Linked DNA regions of Homo sapiens: region 2 is linked to region 1. The links come from fine-mapping of genetic effects on gene expression. A gene starts in region 1. The other region holds a variant in brackets. All regions are shown on one strand. Distances are between the middles of the regions.

The links. PIP is the estimated chance that this variant, and not a neighbour inherited with it, causes the effect. A credible set is the group of variants that fine-mapping cannot tell apart.
Region 2: its variant is the best candidate, but not a certain one, in a credible set for the expression of LINC02035 in whole blood (TOPMed, PIP 0.76).

The regions. Positions count from the first base shown.
Region 1 is chr3:122,884,382-122,888,779 of GRCh38, reverse strand. LINC02035 (long intergenic non-protein coding RNA 2035) reads right to left here and starts at 2,267. Exons shown (of 1, transcript NR_024618.1): 1 at 1-2,267.
Region 2 is chr3:122,757,784-122,762,181 of GRCh38, reverse strand. HSPBAP1 (HSPB1 associated protein 1) reads left to right here. Exons shown (of 8, transcript NM_024610.6): 4 at 2,822-2,958. Among named protein-coding and RNA genes, the nearest start is that of HSPBAP1, 34 kb to the left of the region's middle. The variant A/G (reference allele first, on the strand shown) is at 2,356.

The DNA.
Region 1 (4,398 bases):
CCTATTCTTCCTATGGCAGGTAAGATGGGATCGACTCCCTCTCATGACTTCTTCCAGGCACTTTCTGAGTCACAGACCTAAACAGAAACAGGTAGTTATGTGTGTAGGCCAAGGAAGTGATTTTGTTTGGGACTTGTGGATGCAGTGTATTAGGATGGAGGCGGGATTTTCTTAATGCTTAATTTTCACAAGCCTCCAAAATGACATATTTCTGGTGGGGAGGGAAGTAAATTCGGAACTCGGGGCATTTGTAGTAAATGAAATAATTGGCAGGAACTAAAACCTGCCCTTTTTAGCATTCTTTGGGTTTCTGCAAAGGCTCAGGGGGCTGGGACTTCACTAGCAATACATCAAGTGTGATTAGGTTTACTCACACGTATAAACTGAAGGGTTTCTGCAGTCTCCAGCCCCCAAAGTAGCCCTGCTCTATGTGGCTACCTGATATCCCAAATTCTACCATTAGAAAGCCCCCTTTTGGTATTTAGCCTTTGTTCTTGTTAGTATTCAAATTCCCCTTAGAAAGGAGACCCACAAAGCCTTATGAGTATAAGCATCTTAGCATGTATGCATTTGTTAAATTTTGTCTTAAGAGAAGGCTGGGGTACCAACAACATTCCCAATTTCCCATAGGAGTAATAACCAATTCCTCAGCCATGGAATGATGGTAGGGTTGGGATTCCTCATGCAAAAATTAATTCTGTGCCTCCAGACAGATCCAGATCTTACTCATGAAAAGAATATCAGTGGGACAGAATGTCTTTTCCTCAAAATCAGTTATGGTTTATGATTTGAGAACAATATATGGGCTCCTGTTATGCATAATTATTTGGGAAATTGTCACTAGCTCTTTGTAATTGTTAGTTCAGGAGTGTGTTTTTTAAAAAAAAACCTTCTGACTGGGCATGGTGGCTCATGCCTGGAATCCCGGTACTTTGGGAAGCCGGCAGGAGGATCGCTTGAGGCCAGGAGTTCGAGAATGGCCTGGCCAACATGGCAAAACCCCATCTCTACTAAAAATACAAAAATTAGCTGGGTATGGTGGCGCATGTCTGTAGTCCCAGCTACTCGGGAGGATGAGGCACGAGAATCCCTTGAACCCGGGAGGCGGAGGTTGCAGTGAGCCAAGATCACACCACTGCACTCCAGCCTGGGAAACAGAGCAAGACTCTGTCTCAAAACTATCTCAAAAAAAAAAAAAAAACTTCATTTTTCTGATTATCTTTCACTGCCATGTAATTGTACATATATAAATTACTCTGCATACAGAATGAATAGTATACATGGATGAAGGAACGAATAGATATAACAGTCTGAAAGTTTCCCTAATGCTGGCACCTGTAACACATCACTAACAGGGCCTTGTAGAAGTTCCTTATTGGTTTGAGAAGATAATGTATAAACTGGGAGTACTGGTGGAAAAGTATTGCACTCATGTTTTCTACTTTTTGGTTGTGTGTGACCAAGGGGTATAGATCAGAGAACTGTAAAACTTTTCAGCAAAAAGAAACATCTTCTCTGACCCTCCTATTTCAGAAGTGAGGAAGCCAAAGTTCAAAGAGAACAGATGACTTGCCCAAAGCCCCATGTCTTCAGCCATGCAGAAGACAGACGCCCAGACTTCCTGACACTGAGGTTGGTCTTCTGGTTCACTTCTCTCTCTCAGAGCTATTAATATTATGCTCACATTATAGTCACGAGGAAGTCTTGTTGGCCGGACATGGGGGCTCACGCCTTTAATCCCAACTCTTTGGGAAGCTGAGGTGGGAGGATTGCTTAAGTCCAGGAGTTCAAGACCAGCTTGGGGGAACATAGTGAGACCCCTTCTCCATAAAAAATAAAAAATTAGCCAGGGGTGGTGGCATGCGCTTGTAGTCTTAGCTACGCAGGAGGCTGAGGCAGGAAGATCACTTGAGCCCAGTAGTCTGAGGATACAGTGAGCTATGATCATGCCACTGCACTCCAGCCTGGATGACAGAGACTGTCTCAAAACAAACAAACAAACAAAAAAACCCTTGTTTACTAACACTTGAGTACAGATCATTCCTTGACATGCTGAAACTTAGCTCTTATTCTGTAAAATATCTGCACAGTTTACTGGAAGAATCTGACCATGTGGAGATGGCATCATTGCAAAGCAACTTACAATTCTTTGATGCCTTAACTAAAGATGTAAGTTCAAGGATTGGCTTTACTACCTGACCTAACAGTTTTGATTTCTACAAGTGCAAACCCATGCTGCCTCATGATGAATCCAATCAAACCAAAGGACTCGTATCTCGTTTGATCTGATTCTGGTGAGCAAATGCAGTACCCCGACCTGGCTCCCAGTATGCTATCTCAACATCAGATGACAGATTTTTCTCTTATTGCATTTGATACATTTAATAAACCCTGTGTTTCATATATAAAGTCCTTTGGGAAAATAAACAGCACCTGCAGCTTATCTCCTCCCACAGACACTGAAAAAGCAATTTCTTCTTATTGAATGTGGATGCAGCATAAGATTTCATATGTTCACGTACAGGGCTCACATGAGGGGGGCTACCGCACAAATGGAAACACCAAGGTGCTGGGCACCTCTCCAGCTTTACAGACTGCACATGCTTTGGTCATGTTCATATTTAAATAAGAATCAACTGGTATTTCTGAATTAGAAGAAATCTAAGGGAACATTTTTGCTCACTCCCTCATTTTAGAGATGTTGCTAAAGGAGAAATGAAGTGACTTGCTCAAGGTCAAATAGCTGAAGTCACCAGGCCAGGGTTAAGAGCCAGACCCGTGGGCTCCTACACCAGTGCTCTTTTTCTCTGTCCTCTCTAGTAGGGTCCATGAAGAATCTGCATGCCCGGCTCTCTCCTCTCCACCGCTGGCAACTCGTAAAATCTGGGTGTCACACAGCTCGCTCCCAAGCATTGTCAGAAATAAGAAGACACCATCAGAAAGGGGAAAGCTGGATGGGCAAGAAGACAGGAAAGGAAAAAGTGACCAAATGAAGCTGAGCTTCTGGCCTGCTACAGTTCATCATTTCTACTGACAGCTTGAAAATTAGGAAAGACACAGAAGTTGACCAGGAAACAATAAGAATTATCAGAATCTCCATTAGCTATTTTTTCAAAAAACGAAATTGCACAAGCCAGGCTGGGCAACATGGTGAAACCCCATCTCTACGAAAAATATAAAAAATTAGCTGGCATGGTGGTATACACCTGTAGTCCCAGCTACTTGGGGGGCTGAGGCTGGAGGCTTGCTTGAGCCTGGAAGATTGAGGCTGCAGTGGGCTGAGATCACACCAGGGCACTCAAGCCTGAATGACAAAGTGAGACCCTGTCTAAAAAAAAAAAAAAAAATTGCACAAGATTATTCTTTTGGCTTCTGTTTTCTATAATATTGTGTGCCTCTGCAGAGACAGGGAAGCCAAGAAAGTCCTGTGGAGGAAATCTATATGGATTTCATAGGTCGGTTACTCACTTTCTTTTCTCACAGTACAGGGAGCTTAGTTGATGGTGTTAAGAACAGAAATTGTATTTCCAGTAAGAAAACACAATAGTGCATATTGGAACTCAACTCAATAATGCATATTGGAACTCACTTTTGAACTTTAGAATATGATAAAGCTTGATGGTACATAAGCAGGTCTGTGAAACACCTACATTAACCACAATATGCTACATCTGACAGATTCATCTGGGAGAGAAATAAGGATCTCAGAAACTTCTGCTTCTGCCCATAAAGTTTATACCAATATGGTCCAAGAAAGAGATCCCTAGGTGACTCGATTTTAAATGCCCCCCGAGTTTTTATACATAGATATGTAAATGCATACACAAGTTTCTTCTGAAAGAATGAATGATGATACCCTCTGGAGAGAATGGATTAAACAGCATGTTTGTATGGAGGTAGACTTTACTTTCTATTCCTGTACTATTTTATAATAGTTATACACTCATGTATTTCTCATGTAATTTTCAAAACTCTAAAAGAAATGAAAAAAATTACTTAAAAGAATTACTTATGGCTAACACATTGATCATTTAGGGATTGAATGCTGGTCTAGGAGCCAAGTGATCTGCTAAAACCTGGCTGTGTCATTTAACCTAAAAGGTTCTCTACTGATTTGTAAAATGAGGTGGCTGAATTAGATCATTTCTTTGATTCTATGATCCTTCTGGGTAAATGAGAAAGCCAATTAGAATTAGATGAAGCCTAAATTAAATAGTGCTTTAAAAGAAGTATCATTTTCTAACATTAAGGTAAACTGACAGTTTCTCCAAGTTATCCTTGCCATTTTGTTCAAGGTTGCAGAAGCTGTCTTTATAAATCAGAAGAATTTATAAAGTAGGGAATGCGAAGAGTTCTGTGATGTTTGGGTTGATATTCTGGTATCCCCTTTGGAGTCCC
Region 2 (4,398 bases), 130 kb after region 1:
AGGACCCTCCTCTGTAAGCTACCAGGAAGTAGATACTGATTTTGTAGTAAGTGGTCAACTAGCTAGCTACTTGTCGCTCTTTTCAGGGATGGTGTAGAATAGAACTTGCTGAGAATAGATGATTTTTAAAGATTTTTCCAACTCTTGAGGTATGTATGAGTAGACTCCAGAACAGATCACCCCACTGATCACCCTTTTTGGTTTTACAGATGCAGCACTCAAACAGGGCCTCCTGTTTCTAGCAAGACTCAAGACAGATTCCTGGGCCCACATTGACTTCAGACATTTGACTACCCATAAGTGGCTGAACTTAATTGGGAAGAGAATCCCAACTCTCAATGCTGTCTATTTTTACACTGACAATTTTGCTTTTTTTTTTTTTTTTTTGAGACAAGGTCTTGCTCTGTCACTCAGGCACTCAGGCTGGAGTGCTGTGGTGCAAACATAGCTCCCTGAAGCCTTGACCTCCCAAGCTCAAGTGATCCTCCCTTCTCAGCCTCCCAAGTAGCTGGGACCACAGGTGCATGCCACCACGCCCAGCCAATTTGTTAAAAAAAAAAAAAAAACCTTTTTGTAGAGACAGAGCCTCACCAAACATTGCCCACGCTGGTCTTGAACTCCTGGACCCAGGCAGTCCTCCCACCTCAGCCTCCCAGAGTGCTGGGATTACAGGCATGAGCCACTGCACCTGGCTGACAGTTTTGCTTTTTAAGTCATTATTACTGTTAGACAGGAGGCCAGGGAAGTCTCTCCTCAGTTTCTCATACAGTAACCTCACCCTGTAGAAAAACCTTCAGTGATTCTTTCCAAAGCAGGGCTCTAGAACAGGGTTTTTCATGTGGGGTTGGTCTGTCACCTCTTTGAAAGTATATATAAAGTTTCGTGTGTGCTTTTTTCTGAGGAGAAGGGGCTTTGGTATTCATTAGATTCCTGAAGGGATGTATCTATAAGATTAAGAATCACATGACCTATCTCTTCTTAGCTAAGGCAAGTCTCTCTTTTTTCCTTTTTATACTGAATGGCTTTCAGCTACCTTTAGTTAAATTCCTCAGACTGAGGTGTGGTAAATTGTTCAACAAGGACCAGGTTAATTGGAAGCCTCCCCTAAGCTCCCTGGCTGGGTGCAGGGCCCTCCTGCTGTGATCTTAAAGCATTCCCTGCATACTTGTGTCAGAGCGCTTGTTACATCATATTGAAAGGCTCTGTTTATGGGATTATCACTCATTATTAGACTTGAAGGGTTGGCCTGTGTTATATTAATTTTTGTATCCCCAGCACCCAGCATCATACCACGTATATGGTAGGTACTCAAAAATGTCATTGGCCTGAACTATTTTAACCATCATAAGTCAACAGATTCTTCTTTCCCTCCCAAGCAGCCAGTGTGTTCCAAGCTGTAACCCTGAGCCAGGTACTAAATTAGGCATTGAGAAAACAGGGGTAAGCTCCCAGTATGGAGCTTATAGGCTACATGCAGAGAGAACAGGATTTTTGCCACCCACTGGAACTGCCACATGTGAGCCATGTGCATTTACAGTGGTGCTGACCTTGCAAAAATTCCCCCTTCTATGACAGACATTAATTATGTGCACGTATTCAGCCATTTTCATCACTCAAAGCAAAAATGAAAAAAAAAAATGCTCTTTCTAGTCTTCCTCAAAACCATCCATTAAATTTCTCTTTAAAATCCTTTCTCTTTGAATACAGCTGTTAATGTTTTCCCTCTAAAAATAGAAAATTTAGACTGTAGTTACTGATAAAAGGAGTGTCAGCATTGAGAACGATGTTCTGCACATAGAAGTGGGGTGTTTTTTTTTTTGCTTTTATTTTTTAAAACTGAAAGGAAAACCTCATGATTAAAATAAAAATAAGGCAGAGCCATCATGCCTGGTTCACTAGTATGTTTTTTTTCTTTTCTAGCTTATAAATCTGTTTAATCACATGGATTTGGGTTTATGTGTGACCCTATTTTTCTGTGCTGCAAATGCGCCATCGGCTTCTAAAAGTATAGGCTTTTCCCAGTAGTTGACTTGGGCAGGATTTGCTCACAGAACCAGGCATATGGAGAGTCTTAAGTCCAGAGCACTATGCTGTCTCTGTTCTAAAGATCATTGCACTTAAGAAGTTCATGACTTTGGGGAGTATATTGAAAGCCATCCATGGATGTATATTTCAAAAGATGTATTTTGACACCCTCATCTGAAGACTGATCTAGTAGGTATGAGCTAAGGCTCCAGCATTGATAGTTTTAAGTAACCCCACTAATGTAGGAGAAGTCTTCATTTATGTGGTCATTGAAGTACACAAAGTTAGTAAGTTGCGTATGTACACAAATATCTGCACTGCTTAGAGGAA[A/G]TACGGCTTTCTGACTTCTTCGGTTGTGTCTCAGAGATATTTGAAATAATGCCATTTCCGCTGCATTCACTGTTCTAACTGCCCAAAACACGCTTTCCCTAAATATCAGCATAATCCTGTCTGTTTATTGTCTGTTTCCAACTCTGAAATGTAAGCTTCATCCGAGTAGGCATTTTGTCTCTTTTGTTCATTGATTCATTACAAGCTTCCAGAACAGTGCCTGGCATGTTGTAAGTAGTCAGTAAATATTTGTTGAATGATTACTATTAGTGTGGTTATTCAAATATGTTATTGGCTAAAAAGATTTCTTGAACTGCCCTGGAAACCTAACCTCTTCCATCTGTAGCATTTTCCATAATAGAATATTCCAACTGCTAAATAACAGATGTGCAAGTGAAAATGGGCAGCATTACCATACAGAGAAGTTGGTTAGTTCTTGATGGATTGCAACTTTATTTCAAAACAGGATGTGAAATGGTCTGACTTCGGGTTTCCTGGAAGAAATGGACAGGAAAGTACATTGTGGATTGGCTCCTTGGGAGCCCACACACCCTGTCATCTGGACTCCTATGGTTGTAACTTGGTATTCCAGGTACAAGGAAGGTAATGTGTGTGTGTGTGTGTGTGTGTGTGTGTGTGTGGAACGCACATGTGCATGCATGCAATAGGGGTGGCAGAGAGAATAGGGCAATACCCCAAGGTGTAGTCCCAGCCCCATCCTGTCAGCCTGCCTCATGATTAGGGCAGACCTCTTAACCTCTGGTTTTGGTTTCTCCTCTGTGAAATGAGGACAGTTAAAATGGTGGTTTACAGGTGCGTGCCTTGTCATGATCAGGATTGTCTTCAGAGAGTTTATTCTAGAACTCTGAGATTCCACTCCCAGGTCAGCTAGACAGCTCTCTGCTTGGTCTTTTTTTTTTTTTTTTTTTTGGTAAATTAGAGACATTTGAGACAGTCTTGCTCTGTTGCCCAGGCTGGAGTGCAATGGCATGATCATAGCTCCTGGACCTCAAGCCATCCTCCTGCCGCAGCCTCTCAAGTATCTAGGACTACAGGTGTGTGCCAGTATGCCCAGCTAATTTAAAAAACTTTTTATTTAGAGATGGAGTCTTTCTGTGTTGCCCAAGTATGGCCTCAAACCATACTCCTGCCTTGGCCTCTCAAAGTTCTGGTGTGAGCCACTATGCCCAGCCTATGCTTAGCTTTTCTTTTTTACATAAGAGTTTGTAGTTTTCAAACTTTTATTTAAAAATGGGAACACCCTTTCTTCAAATCTAAATAAATAAGAGCAGAGCAGTTTGTTGAAAGGAAGAGGCTTCACTGTTGCCCTCAAGCTCCTCTCCAAGGGATGCCAGCGATCCTGGTTTGAAAAATACTGGACGCTTTCAACTCTAAATTTTAGTTTGTGCCTACTTGACACAATACAGTGTATTGTTACCTTAGGTCAGTTTTTGTCTCCATCTATCTGTGGACTCTAGAAGATACGAGGGATAGGCAGTGCTTTTGATATACCTGGTTTCTGGAGTTCTATGAGAGTCTAAGTGTTTGTGCCACTTGGAGGATGTACTCAGATGTATGTGCAGCCTTATTTTCCCCTAATTAATGATGCCCCAGTCTTTTCTCCTGGTCATGTGGGACATTTACAGGGCAGCACAGAGAGTAAAACAGAAAAGGTCATGTGCAAGTTCTCAGACCTATTAGATGTGAAAAGGATTATGAGCAGATTCAGGAGAAATAGTCAGTATGTCTGTGGATACATTTCACATGTGAAGAACTCTGAGAATTACAGAATGGTAGAAGTTAGTCCACTCTCTGATGCATTCCGTCTTTATTAAAGGGCATAGAATGTGTCAGGTACATAGCTACACGCTGTGGATGCAAGAGTCAATCAGATGAGTGTGGTCTCTATCCTTGTGGAGTTAACAGGCTGAAACCTTAAACTTGGTAAGAGAGACAACATTTTAAGTAGCTGCTGTCCATGTGTTCTGAATTGGAAACAAGCCAAAGAAATTCAAGTTGGAAAAACATCAAAAAATACCTGAA